Homo sapiens: one gene and its partners. The protein of the gene in region 1 purifies or fractionates together with the protein of each later gene. This does not show direct contact. Each region holds a gene or a part of one and is shown in the gene's direction. Other genes may lie near its edges.

Evidence for each region. The genes of interacting proteins can lie anywhere in the genome.
Region 2: the proteins of PRMT3 (region 1) and CSTA purify together in Homo sapiens (affinity purification with mass spectrometry; one large-scale study listed by BioGRID and IntAct). This does not show direct contact.
Region 3: the proteins of PRMT3 (region 1) and EIF2S3 purify together in Homo sapiens (affinity purification with mass spectrometry, with the first as the bait; one large-scale study listed by BioGRID). This does not show direct contact.
Region 4: the proteins of PRMT3 (region 1) and EIF2S1 purify together in Homo sapiens (affinity purification with mass spectrometry, with the first as the bait; one large-scale study listed by BioGRID). This does not show direct contact.

What each region holds. Positions count from the first base shown.
Region 1 is NC_000011.10:20,505,215-20,510,628, forward strand, and holds the end of PRMT3 (protein arginine N-methyltransferase 3), read left to right. Parts: intron 1-3,089; coding exon 3,090-3,199; 3' UTR 3,200-4,124; downstream 4,125-5,414. UniProt on the Homo sapiens protein: Protein-arginine N-methyltransferase that catalyzes both the monomethylation and asymmetric dimethylation of the guanidino nitrogens of arginine residues in target proteins, and therefore falls into the group of type I methyltransferases.
Region 2 is NC_000003.12:122,328,248-122,332,703, forward strand, and holds part of CSTA (cystatin-A), read left to right. Parts: intron 1-4,456. UniProt on the Homo sapiens protein: This is an intracellular thiol proteinase inhibitor. Has an important role in desmosome-mediated cell-cell adhesion in the lower levels of the epidermis.
Region 3 is NC_000023.11:24,071,956-24,076,411, forward strand, and holds part of EIF2S3 (eukaryotic translation initiation factor 2 subunit 3), read left to right. Parts: intron 1-1,135; coding exon 1,136-1,308; intron 1,309-4,456. UniProt on the Homo sapiens protein: Member of the eIF2 complex that functions in the early steps of protein synthesis by forming a ternary complex with GTP and initiator tRNA.
Region 4 is NC_000014.9:67,377,328-67,381,783, forward strand, and holds part of EIF2S1 (eukaryotic translation initiation factor 2 subunit 1), read left to right. Parts: intron 1-3,331; coding exon 3,332-3,438; intron 3,439-4,265; coding exon 4,266-4,363; intron 4,364-4,456. UniProt on the Homo sapiens protein: Member of the eIF2 complex that functions in the early steps of protein synthesis by forming a ternary complex with GTP and initiator tRNA. This complex binds to a 40S ribosomal subunit, followed by mRNA binding to form a 43S pre-initiation complex (43S PIC).

The sequences.
Region 1 (5,414 bases):
TGCAAATGAAAACTTTAATTCCCCCTCCCCCAGTCTGTATCCTTTTTCCCTCCACACTTTAATGTCCTGACTAGGACATCTAATAGAATACTTACTTTATGTTGGGTCTCTGGAGGTCATTTTGTTATTTTTGAATCTCAAGTGTCCATTATCTGTCTTTTCATATGTGAACTACTTTATACCAGCAACTAAATTAAGTAATTTGTATAAGACATACTGCTTGTAAGTAAAAAGGAACTAACAAGCCACTGTGTTGTAAAAATCAAGTTTGTTGATTCAGTGTTGGCAATTCAATAACAGTAAGTTAAACCCAATAACCAAGTTGGCAATTACTATTCTCTGTCATGTATTTACAAAAACATTGTCAGTTTATCATAATGTGGCTGTTCGTTCCCAGTTTTGGTGTCAATAAATAACTTAAATAGAAGTTTTTAAATGTTGATTTAAAAAGAAGCAAATAAAATAGCCAAAATAGAAAAGTCAAAATAGGAAAATCTTAAATGTGTTCAATATACTAATGATCTTTTATTTCTTCCTTAGGTTAATGCCTTAGATAAGAAAACGTGTATCATTGTTCATTAGTTATTATAGAATAATAGTTACATCAACTTACATATCAATTGTGTTTATAAACAAGTAAATATTTTTACCAAAAAAAAAAAACAAAACCCACGGGGCGGTAAAATTTAGGTCTATTTCTTATTCATTATAGTATATTTAAAGCTATAATCATCATTTTTTTAGATAGAGATAGGGAAGCACCAGAGTATAGTTGAGGAACTTGGGTTCTGGAATCAAACTGCCTTGCTGAAAATCCTAGTTCTTTCACTAGCTGGCAGATGACCTTGGGCAAATTACTTACCTTTTCTGAACTTCATCTGTGAGTAAGGAAAATGCGCTTACCTCATAGCAATATTTTGTGACCATTAAGTGAGATAAATCATGTAAAGACCTTAGAGTAGAGCCTAGCACAAAGTAAGTGTTGAATAAATATAAGCATAAATTATCTAATGATTAACCTGAACTCCATAAAGTTTGTAGAACTATCTGACTGGTAATCTTTATTATGTCCACTATTGGTGAACATGTCATATGAGATAGTTTTATATCATTTTCTTAATATAGAGGAATAGGTCAGATATAAAAGCTAAAGCCAAATATACACATTAACATATATACGTACACAAAAATTGTTATATTTTGTTGAATGGATTGCACCTTGGGCCACATTATTTCTTCTATTATTTAACTCCTTAATTATGTGTTAAACTGTGAGTCTCACCTTTTTTGCAAAGATGTAGAGAAGGTATCAGTAATGGAATCTTTATATTCTGAAAATAAATATAACAGGTGGTTATGTTTTACTTGTGTTATTTCACTACCATCTTGAAAAGCATTCAGATAATTTTCCTTGAATATGGGGAATTTGTATTTTTTTAAATACGATATTCATTCAGTACTTCAATAGTTTTATGTAGATTTCCTTGGTCATTATATGGAGCCTCATTGTGTCCATGCAGATGCTAAAGCTATTCCTGACACTGTTTGGTGTTATCTTAATATTATTTAAGCAAAGAATGGTGATCAACTACAACTTAGCAATTTGTTACTTTTTAAACAGCTCTTTAAAATAAATGAAAAATTAAATGAGAAGTATTTATAATTAGAAAAGTACATAGATAAAAATTTGGAACCTACAGAATTTAGGAAATCAGCCTTTGCACAGGTAAGTAATTTTTGTGTGTTCACTGTTTCACATGGGTACATTGTTTCCCTTTTACAGCACCAGTGCATCAATGGCCAATGGCTTTGTCATGTGCCTCTACATTTTCCCAGCTATAATTTTCAGTTCCTCAAAATGCCATTCCTGAAGGTTCTGTGTATGTGTTTTCCTTAAATACCATTACATGTACATCCCTTAAGCCTGGTTCTCCATGACTTCAGCCCTGGCATTGGGTAATTCATTAATTCTTGTGAAACCTTGCCTTTAACTGCCTTCCAACCATCCCCAGTGCTCACCTCCAGCACACTTTAGACACATGCCTATTGTGTAATTGTTAGTATAGCTTTTTTCTTCACCCTGATCACAAACTCTTTGAGGGCAGGGACCATATCTTTTTTCTAGATGCCCAGAACCCACCATAGGGCCTCATATTTAGAAGTTCAGTAAAATGCTTCCATTGACCCTTTATGACCACAATAGTTTTACTCACTTTCACAAGGATTTGACACTGTGGTATGTAGTTAGTTCTCGCTTCATTCAAAAATTAATGAAACAGGGCTGGGCGCAGTGGCTTACGCCTGTAATCCCAGCACTTTGGGAGGCTGAGGTAGGTGAGCGCATCACCTGAGGTCAGGAGTTCTAGACCAGCCTGGCCAAAATGGCAAAACCTTGTCTCTACTAAAAATACAAAATTAGCAGGTCATGGTGGCGCATGCCTGTAATCCCAGCTACTTGGGAGGCTGAGGCAGGAGAAATCACTTGAACACGGGAGGCAGAGGTTGCAGTCAACTGGGATTGTACCACTGCACTCTAGCCTGGGCAACAGAGAGAGACTGTCTTAAAAAAAAAATTAATGAAACATAATGCTGCTCTAAAAAATGAATATTGGCTGGGCACAATGGCTCATTCCTGTATTCCCAGCACTTTGGGAGGCTGAGGCGGGTGGATCACCTGAGGTCAGGAGTTCGAGACCAGCCTGGCCAACATGGTGAAACCCCATCTCTACTAAAAATAAAAAATTAGCTGGGCATGGTGGCATGCGCCTGTAGTCCCAGCTATTCGGGAAGCTGAGGCAGGAAAATCTCTTGAACCCAGGAGGCGGAGGTTGCAGTGAGCCAAGCTTGCACCAGTGCACTCCAGCCTGGGAGAATGCAGTGAGCTGAGATCACACCACCGCACTCCAGCCTGGGTGACAGAGTGAGACTCCATCTTAAAAAAAAAAAAAAAAAAAAAGAATATTAACCTTAAATAAAGTTTAAAAAGTGGGAAAACATCACAATAAAAAGAAGTGCTAGTTATACATTGTTTACTTTTCTGCTACACTGTATTCCTTGAATTCTTAACAATTTTTGCCTTTGTTTTACAGGTGAAGCCTTGAAAGGAAAGGTCACAGTTCACAAGAATAAGAAAGATCCACGTTCTCTCACCGTGACCCTCACGTTGAATAATTCAACTCAAACTTATGGTCTCCAGTGAAACAGCCATAAAAGCACACTACCTTGTAGTTTTTAATGTGGGGGTAGAGTGGGTCAGCAGGAGGGAGCTGGTTTTATGTGAGCAGATGGATGGATGATGGACCCTTTCCTAATGAGCCTCCTCAATAAGAGAGAAGTTCTCATTGTGGGAATCTGACATAGTTCAGCTGAGGAAGAGAATCAGCTGATCCTCATGGTCTGCCACGTAATCATTTTCTTAGACGTTTGCTCCACCAGATTTAACCAAATGTAACTCCCACATTGAGTTTATCTATATTGAAAATCATTTACATTGGCCTATATTTGGAAGAGAGATAGTCTTTTGTTTTTAATAAGTTTCTTACTATAAATTTTAAACAAATTGGTTAGTTATTTGGATATTTTATTAAACTAGTAACACAGGTACTACACATTTTATTATGGACTCCTCTGAGGAGGAGTTTTTAATTGTATTTGCTAGAAAATCAGGATGTAATAAAGATTTGTATAAAAAAACTAAAATATGGAAAAGAGCTTCAGCCTTCATATACAAATCATATATGCAGACAGCCTAGTTGATTATCTAGCATACTTAGGGTTCTCATTTTGTAGTTTCTTCCCTCTTTGTGACTATTCCTTAGCCTTATAGATTTCTAGTACTGCCCAGGAAATCTAATTTCAATACATTTATCCTAGGTTTCATGAAAGTTTTTAAAGATTGGGATAAATATGTACTTATTTACTAACGTATTATCTTTTTCAAACCAGATTTATGTGCAAAGGTTAAACATGTAACTGTTACTAAGCAGTCTATAAAGTTGTCATTTACAATTACTGATTCAATTTGAAATGTAGAATAAAATTTTAATAAAATGTATCAACTTATAAAATATTTTAAAAATATTGATATTATAAAAGTTTTCAATAAAATATATCAAACAACATTATAAAATATTTCAACAGGGTATGGTAGCTCATACCTATAATCCCAGCATTTGGGAGGCCAAGGCAGGAAGATCACTTAAGCCCAGGAGTTTGAGAGCAGCCTAGGCAACACAGGTCTGTACAAAAAATTCTTTTAAAAAAATTAGCCAGGCATAGTGGTGCATGCCTGTAGTCCTAACTACTTGGGAAGCTGTGGTGAGCAGATTGCTTGAGTCCAGGAGTTGGAAACTACAGTAAGTCAAGATCGTGCCACTGCACTCCAGCCTGGGTAACAGAGAAAGACTCTGTCTCTAGAAAAGTTAATTAATTAAAAGTAAAAAACAGGGCCAGGCATGGTGGTTCATGCTTATAATCACAACACTTTGGGAGGCCAAGGCAGGAGGATTGTTTAAGGTCAGGAGTTCAAGGCCAGCCTGGGCAACATAGGGAGACTCCATCTTTACAAAAAATTAGCCAGGTGTGGCACACACCTGTAGTCCCGGCTACTCTGGAGGCTGAGGCAGGAGGATCCCTTGAGTCCAGGAGGTCAAGGCCACAATGAGATCACACCACTGCATTCCAGCCTGGGTGGCAGGGTTAGGCCTCATCATTCATTTATTCACTCATAAATAGATAAGTTTCAACATACTAAGGCCTTTTGTAAAATCAGAAGCATTTAAAACAAGTCTTAACAAAGGGATTATTTTTAAGAAAATAAGGCTTTTAAGGAGAGGCATTCCACATGCCTCTTTTAAGTTCAGCAGTTGGTTCTTTGTCAAAACAAGACATACACGAGGCAGCTTAGCATAGTGTTGACAAGCATGGAGCATAGTATTGAGAAGCATGATAGCTATGGAGTCAGTGCCTAGGTTCAAATCCTAGCTCCAGCTCTTACTTGCTGTATGATCTTAGTAGCTTTCCTTAACTTCTGTCTCCCTCCATGAACGTGCCAATTTATGAATTAATAAAGAATTTAGATCAGTACCTGGCACATAGAAAACTATTAGGTGATAGAATCATCATTATCCATTCAAGGACTCCCAAAGAATATATGGCACCTACATTAGATCAGTTTAAGAATTGTCACGTTCATCAGATAGTAATTATTGCCCTAGTACATGAATGCGTGAGAAAATTATGATGGGCATTAATATTTAAAGTGGCAAAATCTGTTTCAACAAGAAATTGTCTTTGGTCTCAGAAAACTGGCCTAGCAATGAGGAGGAAAAACCTCTTCAAATGTTGGTTTTAAGACCATAGTCTTTAGTCTTCCTTCACAAACATGATTCGCTTTCATTGGGCTAAACCAGTCA
Region 2 (4,456 bases), on another chromosome or scaffold:
CCCAGCACTTTGGAAGGCTGAGGCGGGCAGATCACATGAGGTCAGGAGTTCGAGACCAGCCTGGCCAACATGGTGAAACCCTGTCTCTACTAAAAATACAAAAATTAGCCCGGCGTGGTGGCAGGTGCCTGTAATCCCAGCTACCCAGAGGCTGAGGCAGGAGAATCACTTGAACCCGGGAGGCGGAGGCCACAGTGAGCCAAGATCATGACATTGCACTCCAGCCTGGGCCACAGAACAAGATTCCATCTCAAAAAAAAAAAAAAAAAAAAGAGTCACCTAGTTAAGAAGTTAGCTCACCCCCAGTGTTTGACTGCCTGCCCTCTCTACCACACAGTGGCAGAACACAGAGGAGCTTTGTTAGGAAACGGAAATACACTGAATGGAGAGAGTGTGGTAAGTTTGTCTTCTCAGTGGAAGCACCAGCCTCACAGTTAAGTCCATATAGGAGGCCAAGGCAGGCGGATCACCTGAGGTCAAGAGTTCAAGACCAGCCTGGCCAACATAGCTTTCTACTTTCTAGTTTTCTACTAAAACTAGAAAATTAGCTGGGCGTGGTGACGGGCGCCTGTAGTCCCAGCTACTCAGGAGGCTGAGGCAGGAGAATTGCTTGAGCTCAGGAGGTGGAGGTTGGAGTGAGCCGAGACTGTGCCACTGCACTCCAGCCTGGATGACAGAGCGAGACTCCATTTCAAAAAGTAAAAAAAAATTAAAAATTTAAAATTTAATTTTTTTTTTGACGGAATCTCGCTCTGTCGCCCAGGCTGGAGTGCGGTGGCACGGTCTCGGCTCACTGCAAGCTCCGCCTCCCGGGTTCACGCCATTCTCCTGCCTCAGCCCCCCGAGTAGGTGGGACTACAGGCGCCCGCCACCATGCCTGGCTAATTTTTTGTATTTTTTAGTAGAGACGGGGTTTCACCATGTTAGCCAGGATGGTCTCGATCTCCTGACCTCATGATCCACCCGCCTTGGCCTCCCAAAGTGCTGGGATTACAGGCGTGAGCCACCGCGCCCAGCCAAAATAAAATTTTTTACTCCTTAGAAGGACTGGTGCGGTGGCTCTCGGCTGTAATCCCAGCACTTTAGAAGGCAGAAGCGGGCAGATTGCTTGATCTGGGTGGTTCAAGGGCATCATGACAAAACCCTGTCTCTACCCCCTCCAAAATACAAAAAAATAGCCAGGTAGTACACGCCTGTAGTCCCAGCTACTTGGGAGGCTTAGGTGAGAGAATCACTTGCACTCAGGAAGTTGAGGATGCAGTGAGCCATGATCACGCCACTGCACTCCAGCCTGGCCAACAAAGCGAGACTCTGTTTCAAAAAATAAATAAATAAATAAATACAGGAAATGAATATCACTGAATCATTTCATAGTAGGTGCATTTCTTGTATATCTCCTAGGTGTCTAGCATTATGCTAATTATTATAGAAGCTACATGAGGTCTATAAGATATGGCCCCTGGCCTCTAGGAGTTTACAGGGTAGTTGGGAAAATCGAGATATCTGGAACATAATATAAAACAATATCCAATTAAGTGCTTTTTTTATAATCACAGGTTTTGGACCAGAAAAGATGTTAGAGATTGCTGGTCAAACCTCCTTCCTTTCAGGTGAATAATTACTGTGAGGCAGTTCAGCTCCTCTGGTGTTAAAGCCCCAATTATCACTTATCTGCCCTCTCTTGCAGGAGTGAGCCTTAGGGCACAATTTCCAATTCAGTGTTAGAAGGTAGAGGAAGAGTTGGAAAACTCTTTGTAGTTTAGGAAGCACTTTCACGTCAATTATATCATTTATGCCCCTACAAACAGCCCCAAGAGGCAGGTATTATTATAACCGCTTTATAGGTGAGAAACTTGAGTCAATTCCTTCTCCAAAATTACAGTTAGGTCCCCATGCAGGAATAGGGAAAATGGATAGATGCTAGTAATTTAGGGACAATCTCCACTACCTGTCACTTACTTGCTAGTTTTATTATTTTTTATTTTTGAATGTATCTCTGTTTTTTAAAATCACCTGTTAAAGTGGAAGTATTCTCAGAGGAGCTGAAGTTTATCAGCTTTCCTTGGACTTCTCAGAGAGCTTCTTAGTGGAAGGCCAACTGAAGAACCCCATTAGAAGGAGAGAAAGAAGGAAGAAAAAGATCATCACATAGAAAAGGGAAGAGTGTCAAAGACAAATGATAACTGCATGACCAAGGAATTTGATATCACAGTGAAAGAGGAATATTGGATGAGGGCAGAAAGAAAAGAAAGGCAAACAAGGGATGGCAATTGAGAAAACTTGAATGTTTTTGAAGGCAGGAGAAATGAGTTTTCCCATTCTGAAGATAACAGAGACTGAACATGTCATTGTAGCACCATGTACTAAAGTACACTTGGAAGAAAACCCTCTTCCAAGATTCTCCGTATTAGCTGATGTCATTGCTATACTCATCTTTCCTATTTGGGGAGACAAGTTGTCAGGATGGAAAACAACTGTGGTCTTTTCATTCAGAAAACATTGATTAGGTAGACAGAACTGTGTGAATTGCTATGGGGGTAGCAGGGACATAAAATAGTGCCTGCCCTTTGGGAAATTAATAAAATAGAATGGAGCTAAGAGGGACACATCCAGAAAGACAGAGCCATACACAGGCCCATTCATGAAAAGCCACAATCTGTATAACGAAGAACCAAATAAATGAATGGCCCAACAGCAAAAGCCTCCGGATCATTATTGCTGATCCATTATCTTATATAATATGTTAATAAGCATTTTGATGAGAATTGTGAGCATATTTATGAGAAGGAAAGAAATGTTATTTAATTGTTTTTAGAGGTAAGGGCTACTATACATGCAATGTGCATGCACACAACAAACACACACACACACACACACACACACACACACACACACACTCCCCTTAGTCATAAACCTAATTGCTGAATACTATTCCTGGCCAACACACAGAACATGATTTTTGTCAGTCAGGACACCGCACAAACACTTCATCTGCATACCATCCTGGGCACACCCTGGAACTTAGCATGTCATGGCTCTCACCCCATCCACAAATTTGCATTCCCCTCTCTGACCACAGCCTCCTTATTAGTCGCCTCTCCCACTGTCCCACACCCAAAGAACCTGTCATTCAGCCACACCAGAATCCTTCAGGCACCTACCTTCCCAACTTCATGAGAACATGCCCAGGCCCACTGAGTCTCTCATCCAGCCTGGACCCCATGACAGGAGGGTAGCTTCAAATACTCCTCCACTCATGATGATTTCCTTGACCCTGGGAGCTCCTGACATTCTAATTCTCAATTAAAGGTCACACCCACTGCCACCACTTTCTATGCAGCTACTACTGTTCCAGAATCAAAGAACTTTGCCAAAGCGAGGTGCAGAACCACAGAAAACTCACCATTACAAACCTGTGGATTAATGCTTAACAACCCGGACAGGACCCAGGGCTGCCAGAACATTCTTGCAGTCATATTTGTTGGTCTTTTTCTAGAAACCCCACAAATGTAAATCTCTCTTCAGTTGTTCATTGCCTCCCACCCCCATGGTCCCTCCAGCAGGATGTCTCAGTTCCTACTCTTCTTAGGCCAGCTGTCCCCAACCTTTTTGGTACCTTTGTGGAAGGCAATTTTTCCACAGATGGGGTGGAGGGGATAGTTTTGGGATGAAGCTGTTCCACCTCAGATCATCAGGCATTATTTTCTCATAAGGAGCACGCAACCTTGATCCTTTGCATGCAGTTCACAATAGGGTTCCCACTCCTATGAGAATCTAATGCTGCCGCTAATCTGACAGGAGGCGGAGCTCAGGCCATAATGCTCACTGGCCCACTGCTCCCCTCCTGCTGTGCAGCCCGATTCCTAACAGGCCATGGATGGGTACTGGTCTGCAGCCCAGGGGTTGGGAACACCTGTCTTAGGAGATTGCAGATCTCTGGTAAGAAAATGCCCCAGCTGACCCTATCTCTTGCTGGATCTCATTCCTCCCTAGACTCTATTCTCCTCTCTTCAGCCAGTCCTTCCTCTCTTAGCCAGGTGACTTCATTTCTTGCATCCTCAATGCCTTGTCCCATACTTCCTTCTTCCTTCAAAACATACTTAGACAATAAATGTCCACAAGTCACATCTTACTGGCCCTACTGTCCTTTCATGTTACTATTCAAACTCTCCTTCCTTACTCTCTAAATCTCCCCCAAATGTAATTCATCCACTTTGCCATCAATATCTTTCTATCTATTTTCTATTAAATTAGGCACAGTCCTATTGTTTCTGTAGAATGACTACAGATTAGGGGAAAAGCCTGAGTGTTGGGTGCCTCATGGCTCAAATCCTCAGATCTCAGAGAATAAACACCTCACCAAGATTCATGCTCAGTAGCAATGAGAAATGCTTGAAGAACTCTGGGTTAAATGCATTATACCAGGTGCTTCTCCCTGGTAGCCTCCTCCCCGGCT
Region 3 (4,456 bases), on another chromosome or scaffold:
ACCTCCACCTCCTGGGTTCAAGCAATTCTCTTGCCTCGGTTTCCCAAGTATATGGGACTACAGGCACGCACCAGCACGCCCAGCTAATTTTTGTATATTTTAGTAGAGATGGGGTTTCACTATATGTTAGCCAGGCTGGACTTGACCTCCTGACCTCAAGTGATCCGCCCGCCTTGGCCTCCCAAAGTGCTGAGATTACAGGCATGAGCCACTGCGTCCGGCCAAAATTGAGAACTATATGGCAGTTAGTTTAAGAAAGAAACTTAATAAACAGGGAAAAGTATTAGCCATTTATGACAAAGACATGATATTCCTAAAATCCATATTTTTGTTTTGTTGTTTATTTTGAGACAGAGTCTTGCTCTGTTGCCCAGGCTGGAGTGCAGTGGTGCGATCTCGACTCACAGCAGCCTCGATCTCCCAGCTCAAGCCATCCTCCCACCTTAACCTCCTGAGTTGCTGGGACTACAGGTGTGGGTCACCACGCCTGGCTAATTTTGTATTTTTTGTAGAGACGGAGTTTTGCCGCATTACCCAGGCTGATCTCCAACTCCTGGGCTTGAGCAATCTGCCCACCCCAGCCTCCGAAAATGCTGGGATTAACAGGTGTGATCCACTGCGCCCAGCTTCATGATTTTTAAAAAATGTCCCAGATTAGGTTGGCAGAGATGGGAAATTGCTGACACCTAGTGTTGGCAAAGATTGAGGAAAATAAGCTATCATGCTTTTTTTTCCCCCCACTCAGGTGATCTGCCTTCCTCGGCCTCCCAATGTGCTGGGATTACAGGCGTGTGCCACTGCGCCTGGCCCATATTAACTCTTATATAGCCATAGTCCTTCATGCTCCCCTCTTTGGGAAATTTTGTACCTCATTTGTACTAGGTAACTGCTTCAGAATTTTAAGAGGTACTCTGGTACGGTTACTACCCTATTTTTTAAAGGTAGATCTTGTGTAAATTCAGTGGGTGCCAAATAAACTATACTATATATAGTTCAAATTCCTTTACAATGAAATTTCTATAGAATTTTTTTTATGATTGACATATTTCCCAATAGTATTTGGTAAATTCTTACTTACATTTGGAAAGCATTTTCTTGATTTTGGGGTTTATTTTTCCCTAATTTATTTTTCTAGGTTCAAAAGCTGTCTAAGAATGAAGTGCTCATGGTGAACATAGGATCCCTGTCAACAGGAGGGAGAGTTAGTGCTGTCAAGGCCGATTTGGGTAAAATTGTTTTGACCAATCCAGTGTGCACAGAGGTAGGAGAAAAAATTGCCCTTAGCCGAAGAGTTGAAAAACACTGGCGGTAAGTTTGTTAGTCTTTGCCACTGTCTAATTAAAAAAAGACACAGTCTTGTACAGAAAAAAAAGCACACAATCTTCCTTGAGGACAACAGTTACTGTGGCTTTCAGTCTCAACTATTTATTTGGATGACTTTGAAAACTATACTTCGGCCGGGTGCGGTGGCTCACGCCTGTAATCCCAGCACTTTGGGAGGCCTAGGCGGGTGGATCATGAGGTCAGGAGATCAAGACCATCCTGGCTAACATGGTGAAACCCCGTCTCTACTAAAAAATACAAAAAATTAGCCGGGCGTGGTGGCGGGCGCCTGTAGTCCCAGCTACTCGGGAGGCTGAGGCAGGAGAATGGCGTGAACCTGGGAGTCGGAGCTTGCAGTGAGCCGAGATGGCGCCACTGCACTCCAGCCTGGGCGACAGAGCGAGACTCCGTCTCAGAAAAAACTACAACCTTGACTATAGTCCCATATTTTAGTCCAAATACTGTGATTGGCTTCTCTTCCTGTTAGACACAACCTATGCAAAACCAAATGAATTTGGGTTCGGTATTTCTATCGTCATTGGCTTTGGAAATCATTTCACACTTAATAGAAAAATTGTAAGAGTTTTACAGAAAACTCCTCTATAGCTTTTTCCTAGATTGACAAACACACATACAGATTTATTTACATATATAAGTTTTTTTCTGAACCATTTGAGTGTAGGCTATATATGTTATGCTTCTTGATCTCTTAATACTTCAGTGTATATTTCCCATCAAAAAAGGATATTCTTATGTAACCACTTAGAAATTTAACATTGGCAAAATACTGAAATCTACAGTGCATGTTTCAGTTTTATTACTTGTCCCAATAATGTACTTTATGTTCCTCCTGTTTAGAATCTTGAATTGCATTTAATTTCATGTCTCTTTGATCTTTAATCTGGAGCTTTTTCAGCCTTTGTCTTAATTGACATTAACAGTTCTGAAGAATACAAACTAGTTACTTTATAGAATATTCCTCAATTTGGGTTTTTCTTATCATTCGGAAGCCTAACATTAGATTCAGTTATATATTCTTAACTTAAATACACCGTGAAGTCTCCTTTTCAGGAATCACAGCTAGAGGCACATGATATCTGACTGCTCCTCTTTGTTAAGGTTAGTTTTGACTATGTAGTCAAGATGTTGTCCAGCTTCTCTGCTGTGTAGTTACTCTCTACCCTTGCAACTAATAAGCAATCTGTAGGGAGATCTTTCTAGCCAGTACAAATAGCCTGCTGATCATTGAATCCCACACCCCTGGATGTAGCATCCACTGATGATTCTTGCCTGAATCGAACTTGACTATAATGATTACAAAATCATAGCACCTCTACGGGTTGCAGTATCCTCCCTCAACTCTACCACCCCACATTTATCATTTGGCATTCTTTCTTTGCCATTATTTATTTCCCTATCTAGTTATAATATGGACTCATGGAGTCCTATTTTATTCAACATGTTATGATCCATCACTGTCTTCCTTTATTTTGATGTGCATTGTTCGACGTTTGGCCAGTGGAGGTCCTTCAGGCTGGCTCTTGTGTCCTTTTGACATGTACTCATCATTTTTTTTTCTTCTTCTTTTTTTTTTTTTTTTTTTTTGAGATGGAGTCTTGCTTTGTCGCCGGGGTAGAATGCAGTGGCATGATCTCAGCTCACTGCAACCTCTGCCTCCCAGGTTCAAGCAATTCTCCTGCCTCAGCCTCCCGAGTAGCTGGGACTACAGGCACACGCCACCACACCCGGCTAATTTTTGTATTTTCAGTAGAGACGGGGTTTCACCACGTTGGCCAGCCTGGTCTTTAACCCCCGACCTCAGGTGATCCGCCCTCCTTGGCCTCCCAAAGTGCTGGGATTACAGGCATGAGCCACCACGCCTGACCTCTTTCTTCTTTTTTTTGGAACATTTCCTTATTTTCTGGCACAAAATCTTCCAGACTCATCTTGTACCTTCTCTGTTCCAGTTTTAGAACTGGCCATTTCTCTTATAAATGAAAAGCTGAGTGTTCAGGTGTGCTCATGGCTCTTAGGGTGCTGTTGCTTCTAGGTCTTTTGAGAGCATAGAGCCAGGAAGCATACACACATTTTTGGCTCCTGACTTTTTGCTCTTTCCCAGGTTATTGAGTTTGCCCCTTGCTTTCCATTCCTCGTCACCTCATCACAGTCCATACCACCATCACTTTACACTTCACAGTTAGTGCGAAAGACTCCTAGTTTGCCTCTTAACTTGGTCAAAATTAGTCTTCTTAAAACATTTTCATCATGCTGTGTTTAATAATTTCTAGAGTCTTCTCACTACTTTTTGATATTTGGGACTTTTCTAGAAACCTGCTTCAACCCATTTAAGCTTTCCTTCTGCATTGTCTTATATAAACCCTCTAAATTAGACTGTTTTGTGCCCTAACTGTCCCCATAATTATTCACATCACCCCTACCCACTATCTACTTCCTTAATTATTTATTTTATATTTTTTAGAGGCAGGGTCTCTCTGTTGACCAGGCTGGAGTTTAGTGGCATGATCATAGCTCACTGCAGCCTCAGTGTCTAAGTAGCTAGGACTATTGGCTCACACCACCGTGATCAGCTAATTTTTTTGTTTTTTGTAGACACTTGGTCTCACTGTGTTGCCCAGCATGATCTCAAACTCCTGGCCTCAAGCCATCCTCCCACCTCAGCCTCTCAAAGTGTTGGGATTACAGACATGAGCCACCCCGCCCAGCCCTGTTTCCTTTATTAAGGCTTCCATGCTACTGTGCCCACGATGGTCTCATCACTTGTCCAGGAGATTTATCTGAATTATTGCCCTGTAATTTAGAAAGTTAAATTTTTGTTGTCTCTTAAGTAAATAATTATTTGTGGTGACTTATGCCCTTTTGATTTTACTGTCTTTTGTGATTATATTTTTTTGCTATTACAGACACACGACTTCCAGTGTATTTTGAAATAGATTTAAGCAATAAACTTTCAGTCCAGGCACGGTGGCTCATGCCTGTAAGCCCAGCACTTTGTGAGGCCGAGGTGGGCGGATCACTTGAGGCCAGGAGTTCGCAACCAGCCTGGCCGACATAGTGAAACCCCATCTCTACTAAAAATACCAAAAAATCAGCCGGGCATGGTGGCGCATGCCTG
Region 4 (4,456 bases), on another chromosome or scaffold:
TATTCATGGTCTCCAGCCTCAGCTGTTCCACATTCTCTCTGCTCCTGGTCAGTTCTTCAGTAGTGGCTATTTTAGAGCTTTTCCACGTTCTTCCTCAGAAAACCACTCTATCCCTGCTCCCTGCCTCTTGGCTGGTATGCTCACTACCTATTTTATTTTATAAAGAAAATAGAAACCATTGCACAAGAACTACTTTTCCACTGTCTCAACAAACTTACATATCTCTGTCCCACCTGTCATTTCTTCCTATGCTGCTGTCACTGGAATTTGTGTCCTAATTGCTCTCAAACTAGTCTTGCCACCTATGCCCAGCTGCTGCTCAGAGATCTCTATTAGTTACTTTTTCTCTTGGGTCACCTTTCCCTTTATTGCTTTTACTCCATCAGCATAAAAATATCTCTAGTTTCTTCCATTTATACTATAAAACCCACTTCTCAACTTTTCCTTTACTTTCTCTTGGAGCAAACACTGCGTCCTCTGCTTTTAACAGCCACACTTGGCTATGTGTGGTAGCTCATGCCTGTAATCCCAGCACTATGTAAGGCTGAGGTGGGAGGATTGCTTGAGGCCAGGAGTTGGAGACCATCCTGGGCAGCATAGCAAGACTGCCATCTCTAAAAAAAAAAAAAATTAAAAGTAGCCAGGTGTGGTAGCATTTGCCTGTAGTAGTCCCAGCAACTTGGGAGGCTGAGGCAGGAGGATCACTTGAGTCCAGTGGTTTGAGGTTTCTGTGAGCTGTGATTTGTGATTGCACCACTGCACTCTAGTCTGGATGACAGAGTGAGACCTTGTCTCTTAAAAAAAAAAAAAAAGCCAGACTCTTTCAGTTCTCTATACTTGCTGTCTCTTTACCTCCCACTCCTTCCTAAATGTTAAGAGTTAGAGGGGGGAAAAAAGAGAATGAGTAGGACCCAAGACCATTAAGAGTCCCCCAGAAAGCCAACTCATCTGGGGTTCCAAATCCCTTCAAGTTTATTCTCATGTGACTTTTTTTTTTTTTTTTTTTTTTTGGTATATCACGTGGTAGAAAAGGTGGGAATAGTAATAATGATAACTAACATTTATATAATTCTAACAACAACCTGTGGTATAAATGCTATTATTATCCTTTTCTTACAGTTGAAGAAACTGAAGCTGAGATTAAATAATTTGTTCAAGGTCACACAGCTAACAAATCATAGAGCCAGGCAGTATTCAAACGCGTGCATTCTGGCTCCATCCAGAGTTTGCACTATTAGCCATTAAACACAACTTTATATTTCTGTCCTGCAGTCCTCAGTACATTTCTTAACTTGTCTCAACTGTCATCATCTGGCTTCTTTAGTTACCTCTTTAACTTCTAGTTCCAGCAACCCCTTGTTACCACTAAACCTTGGCGTGTGTTATTCCCTTTTCCTTAGCACTCTTTTCTTGCTTCATTCATGTAGGGACTGTCCAGATTTAACTAATGCTAGTTCTTTGCATTTTTCTTTTAATTACATAAAATTTCTGACATAGTTGGAAACAATGTTTTACCTTTCCAGACCTATTTTCCTCACTTATCAGTGATAACCACTATTCTGAAATTATGTATCAATATCATTTGTTTTTATTGTTTTACTACATATGTGTCTATTATCATTTTTTATTTAAAATGTAACCTATTGTATCTTTTTGTAGCTTGCATTTTTACATATAAGCCTATTATTAAGCAGGATTCCCCCACAATGATAGATGTATACTTGATCCATATTAATCTCTATATAGTATTTCATTGTGAGAATATGCTTTATCTGTTCCTCTATTAAGAGTTGTTTAGGTAATTTTCCCTTCTGTGCCATTTGTCAAACAGGGCTGTGATGAATAGTGTATGTGTCTCTATATGTAGTTGTTTGAGAGTTTCTAATATATATGCCTAGGAGTGGAATTGTTGGGTCATAGGATTGATTATATATCTTTAAACTGACTTGGTTTCACCAAATCCTTGCCACAATTTGGTATATATCTGATTTTTTCTCCTTTTTCTAGTCTAATGAATTCACAGTAGTATCTTTTGATTTGCATACTCCTGATTGTTGGAGAGGTCAACAGTTTTTCATGTTTCTTAACCATTTGTATTTCTTCTGTGAAACATCTGTTCACCTCATTTGCCCATTTTCTGTTTATCATCTTGTTTCTTATACATTTATGTTGGTTGTCTTCTCGTTACTTTATGTTAGCTGAGTAAAAGTTCCCTCCACCCAAATTCTCTTGCCTTTTATTCCCAATAAGACCCCTTGCTTATTAAGCCTGATGCTTGCTCATGCTATTCCTTTTTTACATGACATAACTTTCTTTTTTTCTTTTTCTTTTTTTTTTTTTTTTTTGAGACGGAGTCTCGCTCTGTCGCCCAGGCTGGAGTGCAGTGGCGGGATCTCGGCTCACTGCAAGCTCCGCCTCCCGGGTTCACACCATTCTCCTGCCTCAGCCTCCCAAATAGCTGGGACTACAGGCGCCCGCCACTACGCCCGGCTAATTTTTTGTATTTTTAGTAGAGACGAGGTTTCACCGTTTTAGCCGGGATGGTCTCGATCTCCTGACCTCGTGATCCGCCCGCCTCGGCCTCCCAAAGTGTCTTTTTTTCTTTTTAATAGAGATGGAGGTCTTGCTATGTTGCCTAGACTGGTCTATGAACTCCTGGTCTCCAGTGATCCCCCTGCCTCAGCCTCCCAAAGTGCTGGGATTACAGGCATGAGTCACTGGTGCCCAGCCTTATGTATCATAACTTTTTTACAATAGTTCTACCTTTACTTTTTACAGTGCTACTCCTCTTTTAGTCTTTATTTCATATTTTCATTTGCTCACTCATTCAACAAACATGCCAGTTAATAAGACCCTGGTCCCTGTCCTGTGGCACTTAGGAGGGTCAGATGAAATGCTACTTTTTGCATGAAGCCCTTCCTGACCTCATTAACTGGAAGTAATACCTTTCTGTCCTGATGCCCACAGATGTACTGTTACATTTAAAAGTTTTTCCATGTTTTTTTTTTCTATTCAAGATAGATTATAAACTCCTTGAGGCAGGGACAGCTAATTGCATGGAAGTAATCAATTATAGTAGAATATCAGATGTGTTAGGCATTAAATTGCTTGTTTTAGTCAGATCACTAAAATTTTGATTTCACTAATAATCAGTTGGGGTGTAAGTGCAAAGCTAAGATTTGAATTCTAATTGTGACACTAAAGCCTTAACTATTATATGCATTAACTATTATATGCTTAACTATTATATGCATTGTTCCATAGTGTTTGGTTTCACATTTATCAGTAATATAACCTTGACCTTTTGTTATTTATTTATGTTTTTGACCAGAGACCCATCTATTTTGGATAGTTTAGATTTGAATGAAGATGAACGGGAAGTACTCATTAATAATATTAATAGGCGCTTGACCCCACAGGCTGTCAAAATTCGAGCAGGTAAATGATTTTTTAAATGATTTTTACAGTATTTTGCATGCATCAAAAAAGCTATTAAATAATGAGACTTACCAAAGAATATGTTGCTACATCAACATCTATAAATTTTTCTAAATGGTTGTTTTTTATAACAAAAGCTTAAGAAATTATTTTGGCTTCTGAATCATAAAATTTATATATTGACACAAGTAGAAACAGTCTTGTGAGTTCAGCTAACCTAAAGGTAGCCCTTTTTTTAAAAAGAGGGGTTTGATTGTTTTGTTTTAGTGCATACTTTAAAATATTCCAAATTTTTACAAAGATGAGACATACCATGCGGAATTTTCTCCAACTAGCCTTTTCCACCCAGTGTATCATAGGTACCCTTCCATTGCAGAACATAGGAATCTTTCTCATTCTTTTTTATGCTGGGTAATGTTTCATAGAACAGATAAACCTTAACATAAACCCGTCCCCTCCTGATGAACATTTAGGTTGTGCCAGTTTTCTCACAGTTACAAAAAAATGCTACAAATTAGCACCCTTATATTATACATACTTAACCATTTACACAAATGTTCTTCAAGACAAATTCCTAAAAGTAGAATTTCTGAGTCAAAGGGTAATGCAATTTCTAAACCGTTTTAGATAAGTTGCAGTTATTGTTATATTCCATCTTTACCACACTCCTCCTTGCCTCCCTTTTATAAATAAGGAACTGCAGTATAGAGAGGTTGGATTCAGTATAAGTATTTGAATACTAATATATCTGCCACGTGTTTGATTTCCTTTAAACTTTTAAATATTTTTTGCATTTTTTATCAACTTTTGAATTTTTGTAATTGTAGATATTGAAGTGGCTTGTTATGGTTATGAAGGCATTGATGCTGTAAAAGAAGCCCTAAGAGCAGGTTTGAATTGTTCTACAGAAAACATGCCCATTAAGGTGAGTCATGAGTTGTCTCCCTCCCTGCTGAAATGCTCACCTAAACCAAATAGGATCTTTGATCTTTGTTTCTTTTTTTTTTTTTAATCACAT